2 separate regions of the Homo sapiens genome follow, and region 2 is linked to region 1. The links come from fine-mapping of genetic effects on gene expression. A gene starts in region 1. The other region holds a variant in brackets. All regions are shown on one strand. Distances are from middle to middle. Region 1 holds the start of DPYSL3 (dihydropyrimidinase like 3). Region 2 overlaps DPYSL3 (dihydropyrimidinase like 3).

Region 1 (8,347 bases):
GGGGGTTTCACCATGTTGGCTAGGCTGTTCTCAAACTCCTGACCTCAAGTGATCTGCCCAGCTTGGCTTCTCAAAGTGCTGAGATTACAGGCGTGAGCCACCACTCCCAGCCTATTATTTTATATTTTTATTCTGTAAACACTTCTGTTATTTAACCTCATTACAATTTATTAAATAAACTCATTTTGTTAAGATAGAAGTTAATAATTAGGTATGCTAGATACAAAGCATATTTTGATTTTACCAAGACACTTAAAATATCTTTTGATAGCTCTGCAATCAACTTGAAAGAATAAGGATTTTGCAGCAACTGTTCTCCAAGGTTGAACAACTGGTCTCAAAGTTTCCTGTGTAATGGGCTGGTGGCACAATAGAAGAAGGGTTCTAGAGGTGTGGCAGGAAAATCTGTCCTTGCTCTGAATAATATTGACATGTCAGGAGCTGACACGACGGCCAGGCTGGTCATATTAAAATAAGGAAGCAGCCTCCCCACCTGGAAAGAACACAGACTCTGGAATCAGAAAAATCAGATTGTGAATTCTGGCTCCCCCCACTTATTATTTATGTGATTTGGGACTAAACAATTAGTCTCTGGGGTTCAATTTCCTTATCGGTTATAACCATTTTCTGTGAGGAAACGACCTTTTGAGCACTATTTAGTATAGGCACACAGAAAGTGTTCAAAAGGTGATACTATCAAATCAACAAATGGTACAAAGCTGGCAGTAGGAGTGCTGTATTATAGAATTAAGGTTTAAGATTATTATGATATAATAGAAAGATGAGCTAAGATAGTGATAAATATTATAGAAGGAAGAAAAAATAAAATCCTATAGTTAAGATTTTTTTGGGGGTGGTTTGTTTTAAATTAAATTGTACCAGCATAGAAGGGGAACATCCTGGCCTAACAGCAGCTTACGTGAAAAAAGTTTCTGAAAGCTTGAATGGCAGGGTGTTTGCCATGGAGACAATAGTAAGTCATAGATGCATATGTTCCGTAAAAGTCCAAAAAATTAAGTAACATAATGCACTTCGCCATGGTCATATCCCATCTGAAGCAACATATTCAGTTCTGGGCACTGTATTTTGAGAAAAATATTTACAAAATATGTAATATAATATAACCTGAAAAGGAAATCAGGATGGTAAAATGCTCATACAAGAGAAGACTGAAGAAGCTAGGAATAATAAGGGTAAGAAAGAAATTTAGGGAGAATGAGATAATTGCCCTCATACATGTAACGGGCATTAAAATTGAAGAGTAATAGTAATAACTAATATGTACTGAATACTACTGTGCAAAGTAGTCACCATTATCCTTATTTTGTACAGGAGAAAACTGAGGTACCCAGAGGCTAAGTTACATGCTTACAGTCATATAACTAGTAAAGGTTGGGACAGATTTCACTCCATTAATTCATCTCTAGATCTGGGAGAGATATTAGAGCTATTTGCCAAATATTTCTAGTCTTACAGGATCATGGCAAGATTGTATTCCACCAGTTGCTTTGAAGCTGAGTATAGACATGGTTTTCGGCCAATGAAATGTGAGCACACATCATGTTCATTACTTCAGCAAGGAATTAAGTGTGTATACAATTTGCCACATACTATACACAGATGTGTAGAGATGGAGCCTCCATCAAGTTAGGCACAATAATGAATAGAGCTTCCCTGTTGACTCACACTGGACAAATAGGAGCAAGAAATATGTTGTTATGTTTTTTATTAAGCTGCTGAGAGTTGGGGGTTGTTTGTTACTATGGCATCACCCAGCCTTTTCTGACAGATACAAGAGTGCACATACCTAAAAATCATTAAAATGTCTCATAATAAGGAAATATATTTACCCTTATATTTCCAAAGGTCAGAACTAAGAATAATTTGTAGAAACTACAGGTAGGTAGATTTGGGCTTAATTTTTTTTTTTTTTTAAGTAAAGTTGTCCAAAAAGTTGCTTCATGAGGTAGTGAGCTCCCTGACAATGGTTGTATTTAAGCAGAGGCCAGATGATCATTTTGCCAGCTATGTGGCAAAACAGATGGTTTAATTAAGGAGGTTTAGTGTATCAAACATTTATTGAGCACCTCCAATGTGCCAAGCATTCTAGCCACATAGATAAATCCAAATACACAATCTCTACCCTCAAGGAAATAAACAACAAGTTCAGAACTTGATAACCTCCGTGGTCTCTTCTAACAGTGTGATTCAACCAAATTAGAGATAATAACATGGCCTGGATGAAGCAGATGGCAAGCCCAAACTTACAAATGACTATGTAGCACTAGAAATCCTGCTGATGCCTAGGTTGTATTATTATTTCTCAATTAGTAGCCAAAAGTATAGGGTTTGCAAAAGGGAGGAAAACGGGAGAATTGCTAGGTTTAAAGGAGGAATATTTTCCCTTTCTCTAGTTACCATTCTTAAATCTTGCAAACCCAGCATATTATCTGGCTTACATCAGGGGTGTTTCAGCAAAGGGAATAGCACTGACTCACAGCAATTGTTACCGACCTTTTCCATCACTACTCCCGCCCGTTCCAGTCAGGAAGGGAACATTTCAATATGGACAAGTCAGACATGAAGAAAGGAATAACCTTTCTATAGGGTTCTTCTTCAGTTTAGATATCAACCAAAACATTTGCAAAATATCAGAAGTTTTCCCTAAAACGTTGGTAAGCAAGGGCTTAGGGGAATCACGCACTAAAAGGATGATGTGAAAATCACAAACTAAATGAATGATTTCAGAGGAAGCCGACATTGTTTTCCAAGTGGTACCCTTGAACAGCACTAACTTCAGCACTTATTTTCCCTGGTGGTCTTAGTAGTCAAAGGTTGGTTGGTTGGTTTGTCTAAACTTTCAAAAATCAAACAGTGAACAGAGATGCTGTTCTTTCACTAGCTCATTGCATTTTAATGGAAAAACAACTAAAACCTGAATAAGCATTAACTGTAATTGCTCTGAGGCAGACATTTCCATTTCAGGTTGTTATTCCTAACCATATTAGTGCAGAATAATACATGCGGATGGATTTTGCGGCCATTACCTAGACAAGGGTGAGGGCATCTGATTATTATTATTCCCCAACTGAAAGCTTCAGTTTGAACTCTGAAGTCTCCAGCCCTGCCAGGCCCTGCATTTTCTGAACTACATCTCTGAGTCTCTGTGAAATAGACACATAAATCAGGGCAAGCTAGATTTCAATGCCATCCCTTCAGTCAGTTCAGTGTGACATAAGTTTCTCAAAAATACACATACAGAAGAAATTGGCTTTGGCACATTTAAGAGCAGCAGGGAATTTGCATCTCATGCTAGTTTAATGTGCACTCTTAATACTCTCGTCTATTTTCTAAAATATAATGCTATTCTTGCAGAGGCAGCTGGACCCCTGTAATACCCAGTCTTGTGCCAAGCTATGTACACAAATACACTCTTTACAAACACAGATGTGAAATGCCGTGCTAAGACACAAGCGAGGCATAGAGAGAGATTCGCGTGTTTAGTCTAGAGGCTCCACACCCAAAAGTTTCAGGGACAGAGCTGATGTTTGAAGACTGAGAGGGGAGACCGCCCCTCCAGTACTTTCATCCGGGCACTATGGAGATGACCCCCATATTCCCAGCATCACTTTGCCCTCTGCCGTGGTGACCCGGGTTGAGATTTAATCTAGGGCCAGAGGGGGGCAAGACAATTGTGCTGTTGGCTACTAGAGAGAAGAGCTGGAAATCACTAAGCCTTCCCGGGCTGACACACCCACCCAGACCGGATGGCCCAGGAGTGCGGCGAGGAGGCAGGGGCAAAGGACGCGGCTCCAGGCAGGGGAACCCGGGCATCCCTTCCGCGCTTGCACGAAGATGCTGCAAGTGGCGACACGCGCGAATCCAGGGTCTGGGCTAGGAAGTCGCGCTACGCTCAGTGGAGGATGACCCTTTCCTCCTCCTTGTCCCCCAGCCCCGTGCAAAGTGAGCTGGAGAAAGTTGTGCCCGGGCCATGGCGGCCAGGGCTGGAGAAAGGAACGAAGGCAAGGAGGGAAGTGACCCGGGGCCCCCTTACCTTGTCCTTGGGGCCGAGGTTCTGCAACACCTCTTTGCCGGTGGCGCTCCGGATCTCTACCCCGGCGGGGGCGGGGGAGGCGGGCGCGGGCTCCCTGCTCTCTTCCCGGCCTTGGCCCCTGCGCGGGGTGTCCCCCTCGATCCCGGGCCGACTCCCCGATCCTCGGTCGCTGCCCTGGCCGCTCCGAGGAGTCTTCGCGCCCCGCTGCCCCACGCTGAGGGCATCGAAATCCAGCGTCTTGCTCTCGAAGGCGCCCTCCACGTTGCAGAACATGCCGCCGTATTTCTGCCGCGGGACCTGGTCCGTGGTGCCCGGCCTGGCCAGGTACACGGGCAGATCGTCTTCGTGGGAGCTGTCCCAGCCCCTCCGGCCCGAGGCCATGGTTCAAGCACGAAAGCGGCCCGCGGGTTTTTCTTCCCCAGAGGCGGAAAGGGCAGCCGCCGGCAGCGTGCGCCGAGCCACAGTGACTGTGGCGGGAGGAGGCGCCTGAGCCTTCGCGCCAGAGGCGGCAGTGCTGCTCCGATTCCTGCTTGTCCCTAGCGAGCCAGCGAGCCACACAGCCAGCTAGCGCGCGGAGCAGGGGCCCAGAGTAGCGCCGCGCTTGGCTCACTCGCTGGACCTCTCGCCCGGCCGCACCTCCTCACGCACCCCCAACCCTAACGTGGCCTCCCGGGCTGACGCAGCGTCGGTGCCCATCACAATCACAAACCAAACTTGGCGCGCGCGCACACGCACACACAGGCGCACACTGCCCGCTCGCGCAACAGCCTTGCCTCACACACTTTCGCGCAATTTAGACGTCTTAGAAATGTTCACACTCCAGCACTTGACTGCTTCACCCACACTAACTCCCTAGTTTGCCTCACAAACACAAAGCTTTCTGACGTCCCTCGTGCACAAAAACCCAGCTGACCCAGGTGGATTCATCTCAAAGCCAAGTCCTGATTTACAACTAACACATACAAACTCAAATTTACGACAGACTCACAATCCTACCCGGAACCCCGGACTTGCCTCATCCTGATCTTTAGGATGACACTCATAACTACACCCAGTTCTAGAATCTGCCTTGCAAACCCACACTCTCACATGAAGTCCTGAATTGGCTTACACACACAACACAAACACACACTGAGAGAGAAGCCCTCTTACTTCATTGAGAGTCACAAAAGCCCTTTGGCTCACATAAGCCCTTTCTTAGCTTCTATATAATATCCTAGTTTGCTTTTTACCACCCCTAATTTGCCTCATTTCAGATCACACACACACACACACACACACACACACATTCTTAGGTTTTGCCTTGCAAAGCACTCTTCATTGATGCTCTGTCCCTCATACAACAAACCCCAGATTTTAATCTCACACACTGACACAAGTCCAGGTTTACCTCAGTCGGAACCGACACTTAGATTCACACCTAAGCCCAGATTTACTTCAAAAATCACACAACCAAAGACTTTGCTTTTCATGTTACCTCAGATGTATGCAGACTTTACTTATGTACATCTGTGCTTTCATAACCTCATTCTCTTCCCCACGTCCACCCACGTATACTCTGACGCCGACTCTGCCACATAAACAGAACCTGCAAACTACATACCTTACATCATATCTGCACACACCACCTAAACCCAAAACCTGTTGTGCCGGATTTAACTGTGCTCCCTCTCAGAAAGTCACCCATTTATTTATTTAGTCAACCAACATAAATCAGGTACCCACTATGGCTTTCACAAGATGCTGGAGCAACAGTGTCGAACAAGAGAGATCGGCCTGTCCTCACCAAGAATGTAGTCTATTACCACCCATCTAGGTAGCACAGCCGTTCACTGTTCTGCTCAACTTACAGAACTTTGTTTATTTTGTGAACTAAACACTCCCCCTCCCAAGTATGGACACATACATGCTAAGCTCCATAAAGGCAGAGATCTGGTCTGTTCAGTTCACCTTTGTATATCTTGTGCCCAGAACATCTACAGGCACTTGATACATTCTTTTTGAACAAATGGAGGATAACAATAACAACGACAGCAGCACCAGAAAATGTTTATGGAGTTATTGCTATGTGCCAGTCATTATTATAATTGTTTCACATATATTAACTCATTTAATGCTCATAAGCATATGGCCGGCTTCTTTGTGCGCATAGACATACTCTTTGAAGGCATCCACATAGAATTTGATGAAATTAACCTTTGAACTCTGATTTTGGAGTGGAACAAAGGCTCCGGAAACTGGAATGTCAGTCTCAGGTCTGTGACAGCCACAAAATATTGAGGAATGGAAGTTGGCCTGAACTTAGATCAAAGACAGGTATGTTGACACAATTTAAACCTATCCCCTGGCCAGGCGCAGTGGCTCACACCTGTAATCCCAACACTTTGGGAGGCTGAAGCAGGTAGATCACCTCAGGTCAGGAGTTCAAGATCAGCCTGGCCAACATGGTGAAACCCAATCTCTACTAAAAATGTAAAAAATAGCCGGGCGTGGTGGCACCCGCCTGTAGTCCCACCTACTTGGGAGGAGGCTGAGGCAGGAGAATTGCTTGAACTCAGGAGGTGGAGGTTGCAGTGAGCAGAGATTGCGGCACTGGGCTCAAGCCTAGGCGACAGAGCAAAATTCCACACAAAACAACAACAACAACAACAACCCAATCCCCAGTGAAGAGAAAGCCACTTGCTAAACTGCCTGTGCTCTATCAGAATTATTTATGACTTCTTAAGCTGACTTCCTTTGGGCAGCTGCTCCTTCTTAACAAATGCTGGTTGGTGATGGACTCAGAATTTCCTGTGAGTGCTGCTTCAGAACAATTACAGTTAAGGGTTATCCAGGTTTTATTAGTTTCAGGCTCTGCGCTAAGGACATCCAGGCAGTATCTTAATTAATCTTAATAACCTTACCTGTCTGGTACTAGCATTTCTTTTTGTTTGAGACAGCATCTCCCATTTGAGACAGATGGGAAAGGCAGGAGTGCAGTGGCCCGATCACAGCCCATGGCAGCCTTGACCCCTGGGGCTCAAACAATCCTCCTACTTCAGCCTCCTGAGTAGCTGCGACCACAGGGGTGTGCCACCATGCCCAGCTAAACTTGTATTTTTTTCAGAAACAGAGTTTCACCATGTTGCCCAGGCTGGTCTTGAACTCCTGAGCCCAAGCCATCTGCCCACCTTGGCCCCCCAAAGTACTGGGATTACAGAAGTGAGCCACTGCACCTGGCCTATTATTTCTTTTCTACTAATGAGGAAGCAGAGGCTCTGAATGAATGTCCAAGTTACAAAAGAGTCATAACTTGAAGGAGGATACGTGCAGAGTCTGTTTACTTTGAGAGAGGGCACATTCTGAATGTAGACACACACTTTTATGTGCATATTTGCATGGGAACATGGGCATACAAACAGAACTTCGTAGTTGTACGTGAGCCCCATTGTTATAGCTGCATTGCCTCACCACTATGTCTGATGCAGTGTATAGGCACAATAATTACATTTGTTGACAAAGTATCACATTTAAAAGTAACAGTTACATGTACACATATGTGTTTAATTAAGAAAGTACAGCAGCCTATTAAAATTTTAGAAAGACTAAAATGGGAATGGCTGATCTGGCTCCAGTTCTGCAACTATGTGGCTTTAGGCAAATGTCTGGCTTAACCTATTTGTGTTTTTCTCCTTTATGTTTGCCTCCCACTGAATAGAATTATTATGGACTTCATTCCTGGAGCAAGCCATTGTGCTTAGAATTTCATAAACATTGCCTTAACCTTCATAAGAACCCCATAAATCTGAAGTGATGATTATTTCCATTTTATCCATGGAGAAAATGAGCCTTAGTGAAGTTGAGTTCTTTCCCTGAAGTATCAGTTAGTACTTCAAACTGGAATTCAAACTTCCCACTAGCTGATTCAGACAGAACTTGTGCTCTTAAAAAAACACCCATAATAGATCGCTGTCATGAGGATCCAGAGAAGTAATAAATGGGAAGCCCAAAGTTAAGGTGTTATGGAATGAAATATCCCTAAATGCCCCAGTTGTTCTTGGACAGAAGTTAACTTTGGTTAAGGCAAACACTCACATAAGGAAATATCAGACCACTCGACTCCAAGCAAAGGTATTAGCCCCATGAACACATGGCAATTTTGTCATGTCCCTTTCTAGTAAGACAGAGGATACATTACTTGTGACAATCACAAACACAAGAGCAACAGTATGTCTATAGATACTGTAAGTCAGACTACCCAGGGAAGGGGTTATCTAAAACAATATACAAACAGCAAACTATTTCTGTAATGTG
Region 2 (8,347 bases), 34 kb before region 1:
TGAGATAAATTTTGCAGAAGTTATCCTCAAAAGCCTAAATATGCTTGCCTGCCATATGCCAATACATGTTTTTAGTCCAGGCGTTTACATCTCTCCCGCTCTCTCTTTCTTCTCCCACTCCTCTCAGGCTTCGAGGTTTCTGTCTCGGGTTGTCTGTTTACACGAGCTTCATTCTTCTTTTAGCTCTTCAAAGAGAGCAATTCTGTGAGACCATAGCAATCAACCTCCTCCATCTTACAGCTGAAGCACATGAGACTAGCGATGGCTTGCCCATGGCCAACACTGTAGTTAGTGATACTACTAGTATAGAGCTCCGACTTCTAATCCAGAGATCCACCATCCATTACACACTGCCTCACTTCATCCTAGAAAATAGGTTTGGGGCATAGGTTATGCCCTGTTCAAATGTTCAGTAATGCTATGCTCAGTCTCAAATGAAATAAAGTTGTTCATAACATCAGAAAGAGATGGCTAAGTGCTGAACCAGAAATAATTACTATTCTGAGATGCAAGACATAATGATGAGGTGTTATAGTGAAAGAAGAAAAAGAAAAGTCAAGGCACCCAAGTTTTAGCCATGTCTATTTTATTAACAAATTGACCCTAAGCAATTCACTTAACCTCTTTTCATTTCTTCAGTGGAGAATTCTTTGCTTCCAACCTCTTTGGGTTGATGATCAAATGAGATAATGGAAATGCCTCTGTTTGGGAAAAAATGCATTTTGAAAGGCTATATGAACACCAGGTCTGAGTATTATTTTTCCATCATGTTACAAATTTATCCAGGGCTGATATCTGCTCAAAGGCCTATTTACCATTACTGCTTTCCAAGTATGACCCTGCCTTTAAGTATCTCTCTGTTTTTCAAATTATGTATTTCTCCAGATGCATGTTTTCACTTTTCCAGGCTGATCTCGTTTGTTCATTTCCTGTCCATATTTCTAATCTCCCTAGGTTGCTCTGTACTACGTCTCTTGCTTACTGGTGTTTATAACACCATCCTATTTACCCTCATCTGCAGACATAATTACCATAATAGGTTTATGGCCTCTTTCCAAGCCATTAATAACAACGCAAAATGAAATGCATCTGAAGCTCATCTCTGCAACATCTTCCTGGAGCTTGTACCATGCCATTTTTCATTCTTGTCAAATTTTTCAGCCAATATTGAGGTCATTTTCATGGTTCAGAGAAACTCCTAACCCAACCCAAGTCTTTTTCTTTTGTTTTCTTTTTTAAATCATACGGGAACCAGACTTTGTTTCTCTTGCTTGTAATAAAATAAATAAAATAAAGTCAGTTGCAACATGCCAAAACATGAAGCAGGGCACTTAAAGTCCTGAGAATAAATGAGTAGGTTTCTATCCAAAGATCTTTTTTCACATCAATGTGAGAGGGCTCATTGTGATTTTGTCTCTGTATTTATCCAGCAAACAGGAAGACCTGAGTTTTCCAAGTAGAATTCCATATCCTTGTGTTTCTTTCCCAGTGGAGACCAACAGCCAAGTTCCTCAGTAATAAACCTGAAGAATGAGATACATAATCTTTGAGACTCACTACAAAAGAAAAAACTTTGTTGGTTTTCTCAATAAGCTGACATTAAAGTCCCATCTTTGCTTCCATTACAACACTTAGCAGCTTCTAAAGAGAAGGGAGTTTGAAGAAGAAAGAGAAAGAATATAAAGATTAATCCACAGGTGAATAAACTTGAGAAATGGTGAATGAAATGTTATCACAAACAATTTTCTTTTCTTCTTCTTAGTTTGGAATTCATTTGGGGGTTCTGTTTTGTTTTGTTTTGTTTCTGATTGAGCTCAGCACAGGATGCCTCATCTTGTTCTAAATTCTAGAATGTATTTCTTCACTTCTTGCTGAGCTCTTCTGGCAATGGACTTTTCCACCAATGGGTTTGCCCTTTGCAGTTAAATGGTGATTCAACTTCTAAGCAGTTGGAAATTCAGGTGGAATTAAACCTTGGGGACCTTTCTGAATTACTACATGGACTTCCAATTTTCTTTTTTAAATATATTTTAAATGTGACACCCTTAGAAATGCTAAATTTTTGTTCCTGAATAAAGAGGAAAGAAAAGCTGCAAGTATCTTAATACTGTAACTTAAATGCAGTGTTTGAGGCAAAGTCTCATTTTTATCAATTATTTTCATAGGTGAAAAGGCAAATTATGAATTCTGGACACAGAAACACCTGGTTTTCTATCCTGGCTACATAAAATACTTGCTTTATGAAATGGAAATACTGTCTTAATCTTTTTGAGTTTGTTTCCTTTTCTATAAAATGGGGATGAATAATACTTTCATCACACAATGTTGTTCAGATATCATGTACACAATGGTGGCTAGTAAGTACAGTGTCTGGTGCATCATAGGGGAACAGTAAATGTCATCTGCTTCCTTTGTCCTCCCATACACATAATGACAAAATCTGTCATCTTTTATTAATACACATAGTTCACTTTCTCATAACACTGTTATCAAGCAATTATGAACTGCTAAGAGGAAAATGTCTTTTCATGAATTTAATAATAATGATAATGATACTACGCAGGCAGAATCCTAAGTGCTTTTATCTGCATTTTTTTCATTTATTCCTCACAAAGGGAAGTACTTTTACCATTCCCATTTACAGAAAAGGATTTGGAAGCTGACAATGGTTAAATGACAAGCTAATTAGTGAATGGGTCAGGATTTGAGCTCAAGCAGTCTTGTGCCAGAACTTCACCCTTGTTAGCCACTCTATACTATCTTCTTTTACAACAGTGTTTATTATGAATTGGAGGTAATGATTGTATGGAGATTACATAGGGTAATGCATAGAAAGCACTGTACATAATGCCTGCCACATGGTAAATGCTTAATAAATTAGAAATTTGGTGAATAAATAAGATTTTTTGTAATATAATTAGATCATCTCATGTAATAGCCTTTTTTAAAACACTTTGTTGAGATATAACAATACCATACAATTCACCAATTTAAAGTATACAATTCCGTGGTTTTTAAGGTATATTTAGAGCTGTGTAACTATCATCACAATCTAAGTGTAGAACATTTTCATCACTCAAAAAATCCTTTATTTTTTGGAATCTGGATTTTCATAGATTAGGTTTTCTTAAAGGAGAGTATGTATGAAAAATGGCACTTTTCTCACATATTACTGGTTGGAATGAAACATGGTACAACCACTCAAGAAAATAACTTGGCAGTTTCCCAAAAGACTAAACATGCAGTAACCATACAACCTACCAGTTGCACTCCTGGGCATTTATTCCAGAGAAATGAAAACTTACATCCCCGCAAAAACCTGTAGGGGAATGTTCATAGCAGGTCTATTCATAATAGCTAAAACCTGGAAACACCCCAAATATCCTTCAAAAATTGGTGATATCTGAATAAGGCCCTGCCACCTACCTAACAGTATTGTACAGATGTTAGTTTCTTGGTTTTAATATCATATTGCTGTTATGTGAGATGTGACCATTGGCAAAAGATGAGTGAAGTGTTCAAGGGATCTCTGAACTATTTTTGTTATTTCTTGTGAGTCTGTAATCATTTCAAAATAAAACGTTAAAATAATAGCACTTCAAAAGCAAAGCTAAGTCAAGTGTTGAAGAATATACCCAGAACCGAATGCTGGCATCTATATGGTTTTTGAGATGGTTCTTAGAATTGAAACAACTTCATCACAGCAAAAGATTTGAAACAAAGATTAAAATCCTAAAACAAATTGCTCAAAATGGAAAATTATTCAAAGGAATAGAAAGAATACCTTGAAAGAACAGATGAAAGCAGAGCCTCAAAGTTAACGTATAAATAGAAACTAAATTACAGAATAAATAAAAGATGCCCTAGGAAGGTGCAAAGATCAAAGTAATTACAAACTATAGAAGTAATCTCATTTAAAGGGTTGTCTTAACATGCTATAATGAAGAAGATGACTCAAACTCTTGAAAATATTTGTAAAGGTTTTTGAGCAGACAGTTATCCTGAAAAACACCCGAAGTTAATTTATTTGGATTAAGATCATGATCACAAAGTAGCATCAATTAACATATCCTCAAAAATGAATGTATTATTATGATTCTGTTTCTGCAGATAACAATAGTAATAATGATGGGAAGTAAAATTATTAAATATCTTACTTGTACAAACTTATTTAATTCTCATAACAACCTGCTGAGGTTGATACTATTATTATGGCCATTTTCACAAATGAGAAAACTGAGGCATAATGATTATGTAACTTGATCAAACTCATATAGCAAGTAAGTGGTAGAGCTAGAGCTGGACTTGATACAGATACAAATGGTCACAAACTCGATTATGAAATTCAAAATTAAATTTAAAAAGTGAATTAACTTATAATTTTAAAATGAAAAATTAAGTCCCAATACTAATTAGTTCCATGATCATCTAGTTAAAAGAAGAAATAAACTAATTTTGTTTGAATTAACATAAAATTTCAGTTATCCAGGGTCCAATCAGAGGATAATTTTTATGACTGTAAAATAATTGATATTCGTAATGATGAGTAGAGAAATATGGTAGATTAGATCATTTAGT[T/C]CTTCCAATGCAAAATATGTTAATGCATATTTAGGAGTAAAAACAAGGGAAATGAAGACAAAAATAAGCAGGAGAGCTGACACTTTGGCTGCCTTATGGGGATTTACCCATCTTGGTAACCAAGAGTTGGAGTTTTAACGCTTCAAAGAGGAAAAGAGATGAACCCCTTTGGTCCATATCAAAGGGGGAGGAATTTGGACAGAGACTTCCATGTAAATTTTGGTCTCTCAGTGAAAAATGCAAACTGGTGAAATCTTCTCATGTATATGGAGTGATGACATGGAGCTTATTTTTCTTGGCCAATGTTCTTGATGGAGTATTGTGGGAGGAGTCTCCTCAGAATTTGTAACAATAGAAGACCCTCAGGTAAGTTTGAATTTTATTTTAGGCATTTATTTTATTTTATTTTAGGAATTCCTAAAGTGAAATATTAACATGAACAATGTTCATTGCAAAGATACCACTGGGGTATCTGGCAAAAAACAAAAGCATTAGAAAGAGACACCCTTTAGATGCTTTAGAATCAGGTTCATCAGATTCTTTCAGAAAAAGCACCAACTCACATGAGTTCACAATTAAAAATTACCAGACACATTTAAAAAATCTACTCTGAGCAAGATTTAAGACACAATAAGTACCCCCCAGTTCCCTCAAAACTTCATGAAATAAAACAATTACATAGAAAAAATAAAATCAGTATGTTTAAACGGACAAAATTCCCAATTCAGATAATATTTAAGTACAGGAAAAGAACAAGACATGATCAAAACAGAAAATGCAGATTTAAAATAGGGCACGGAATACATTGTCTGGAAGTGGGAAAAAAATAGCCAATGAAATGAAACACTCAATGAGTGGTTTAACAGCAGATTATTTACATATGAAGAGAGAATTTGTGAGCCAGGATATAACTATGACCAGATAGCCCTGGCTGAATGAAAAGAAATGGAAAGCACAACAAAGAGATTAAGAGACCAGGACATTAGAAAGATGATCCACAATAAAGTTAAGAGGAGCTCCAGACAGGAAAGAAAATGAAGAGCGGCAATATTCACAGAGATAATTTATGGCTGTGATATTTCCAGAATTGTTGAAAGATGTGAATCCTCAGATTCAGAAAGTACATTGAGTGCAGAGAAGGAAAAATAAAAACACCTAAATCTTTTTTTTTTTTTTTTTTTTTTTTTTTTTTTTGAGACGGAGTCTCGCTCTGTCGCCCAGGCCGGACTGCGGACTGCAGTGGCGCAATCTCGGCTCACTGCAAGCTCCGCTTCCCGGGTTCACGCCATTCTCCTGCCTCAGCCTCCCGAGTAGCTGGGACTACAGGCGCCCGCCACCGCGCCCGGCTAATTTTTTGTATTTTTAGTAGAGACGGGGTTTCACCTTGTTAGCCAGGATGGTCTCGATCTCCTGACCTCATGATCCACCCGCCTCGGCCTCCCAAAGTGCTGGGATTACAGGCGTGAGCCACCGCGCCCGGCCCTAAATCTTTACTAAAATTGCAAAACTGCGAAGATAAAGAAAAGATGTTAAAGGCAAGCAGAGAGAAAAGGAAGACTGCCTTTCTTAGAGCTTGTCCAGAATCACAATTTTGCTTTTTACAGCCAGGACCAGAATTCATGTCTCTTGTATCTTACATTTTGAGCTCTCTTTTTCATTATTGCTCTCATAAAAATGTTTTTCAATTAATGATTTATCCTAAGTTATGCACTACATAAGATATCTCTCAGTCTCACAGAACTTCACACATTCCCTTTGTATTCATTGGTCTGTTAGAGGGAGTTCATAGGTCTTCTTAATACACACTCTGACATTTTAATTTTTACTCCGTCTCCAGCTTATACACATTAATATCAGCTAGAACTTGCATTCAGCTCTGCATAACTACATCTGTAAGGGAGGCTGGAACATGTAGTTTTTTAAGCTGGGCACATTGCCTCTGTCAACAAAAAAATCAGGGTTGCCTCAGTAAGAAAGAAGGAGACAACTGATTATTGGTTAGACACACATCATAACATCTAAGAAGTATGGTGTAAGAAGATGGTACCTTTGGAAAGAAGAAGGCAGCCAAGAGAGTCCAAGATGCCTGTTAAGTTTTGTGGCCTTACATGCACTCCGTATGACCCTGTGTAATTTGGCCTTGACTGTCCTCTCTGCCTTTGACTTTTGCTCAACTTATGCCACTGTCTACAGTGTTTCAGGTTCCTGAGCATGCCATGCTCTCTCCTTTATTGATCCTCTGTGTGGAAATCCTCTGCCCCCCACACACACCAGCATGCATTTCCACTACCATATCATACACATATATTTTGCCAGGCTATCTCAAATGTACATTGAGGCTGTGGGGAACCTTTCTTATCCCTCAAGGTTGGTTCTCTATCTGTCTGTGGGACCTTGGGGCCCTTTGTTTCTCTGAGACCCCTACTGTACTGCCTATCATACTGTACTGTAAGTGTGTCAGGGAAAGTGTCAGCCTCGGGACACTGTCTCCCCAAACTGTCAGCACCCTGAAGACAAAAACTTTATTCCATTTCCACCAGATCAGACTTGCCTTTTGCTCATTTTTCTTTATCAAGTATTTGCACAGTGTCTGGCATCTAATAGGTGAGCAATAAATTTTTGTGGAATGTATACATTAATAAATTCTACCTGAGTACATCATGAGTTAATTAAAGGAAAAAAAAAGTGTAGACAGGCAGTAATAGTAGCTACTACTTATTGAGGGTTTTCAAACTGTGAAGCATTCTGGATTTAGAGCACTACAGGGATTATCTTACTTTTCCAACAACATATGATACACATACAATTACTGAAATGAGGGAAGTGAGGCTCAGAGAGGTTATTTGCCCTAGGTCATAGAGCTAATAAAACACTGAGCAGGGATTTAAACCCTGGTTGTGTCTACTCCACAATCAAAATCCTTAATTGCCGGGCTATGCTGCTGAAATTCAGGTCTCAGCGCCTTTGGCTGTATATTCTAAGAGATGCTGCAACATAAATCCCTAGTGCACAGGACAACTGTTTAGGAGCGCAAGTCTTGTCAACTCAGTGAAGGACATTTTATCTTGTCTGAAGAGAGAATGAAAAAAGGAGGTGAAACACAATGGGGGTTTTATTTTGGGAAAAAGAGGAAGCAGGGTGACAAATGAAATAAACTGAGAATCCCACATCAGAGCAACCACAGAGCCAATCTAAGACAGGCATCTTATCTATCAACACCATTCTGACAACCAGCTAATTAAATATCTCTGGGGAGAAAGTTCCCATCTTGACTCACAAGGGCCAATGCTGAGTCTTGAAGCCTGTTCTCCACATGGAGCTTAGCAAGGCCAGCTTCCCAGATGGCCTGATAATCCCTGAAGCAAGCATAACACCCAAGTCCCACTGTAAAACAGGCACAGGCAGCAGACTACACAGAAATCAGGCTTAGCATAATAAGAATAATATAAAGGCTTGCATTTATTGGGCACTTGCAATCAGCAAGCAACTGAGTGGTGTTTCATTTAATCCTCCAAAAGAATCTAATGATATAGGTATTATCCCCATTGTACAGTGATGAGACCAAGGCACAGCAATTATTCCTGTTATTTCCTCCTGTTTGTCAGCTCTAAGCCCAGCCTTCACCACTTTATACTCTTTGATTTCTACTTGGCTACTACTCTGCAAACTACATGACTCAGAATTCTTAACCAGCTAGCTTCCTATTAAGTTCTGCAAACAGAAGGCAGCACGTAGAGAATAAAAGGCGAAAGAAAGGACAACAGAATCT

What was found. PIP is the estimated chance that this variant, and not a neighbour inherited with it, causes the effect.
Region 2: its variant is fine-mapped to the expression of DPYSL3 in blood mononuclear cells (TOPMed, PIP 0.92).

The regions. Positions count from the first base shown.
Region 1 is chr5:147,505,424-147,513,770 of GRCh38, forward strand. It overlaps DPYSL3 (dihydropyrimidinase like 3), which reads right to left and starts at 4,645. Exons shown (of 14, transcript NM_001197294.2): 1 at 4,055-4,645. The coding sequence starts at 4,435.
Region 2 is chr5:147,471,822-147,480,168 of GRCh38, forward strand. The region is part of intron 1 of DPYSL3 (dihydropyrimidinase like 3); the gene reads right to left. Among named protein-coding and RNA genes, the nearest start is that of DPYSL3, 34 kb to the right of the region's middle. The variant T/C (reference allele first, on the strand shown) is at 4,579.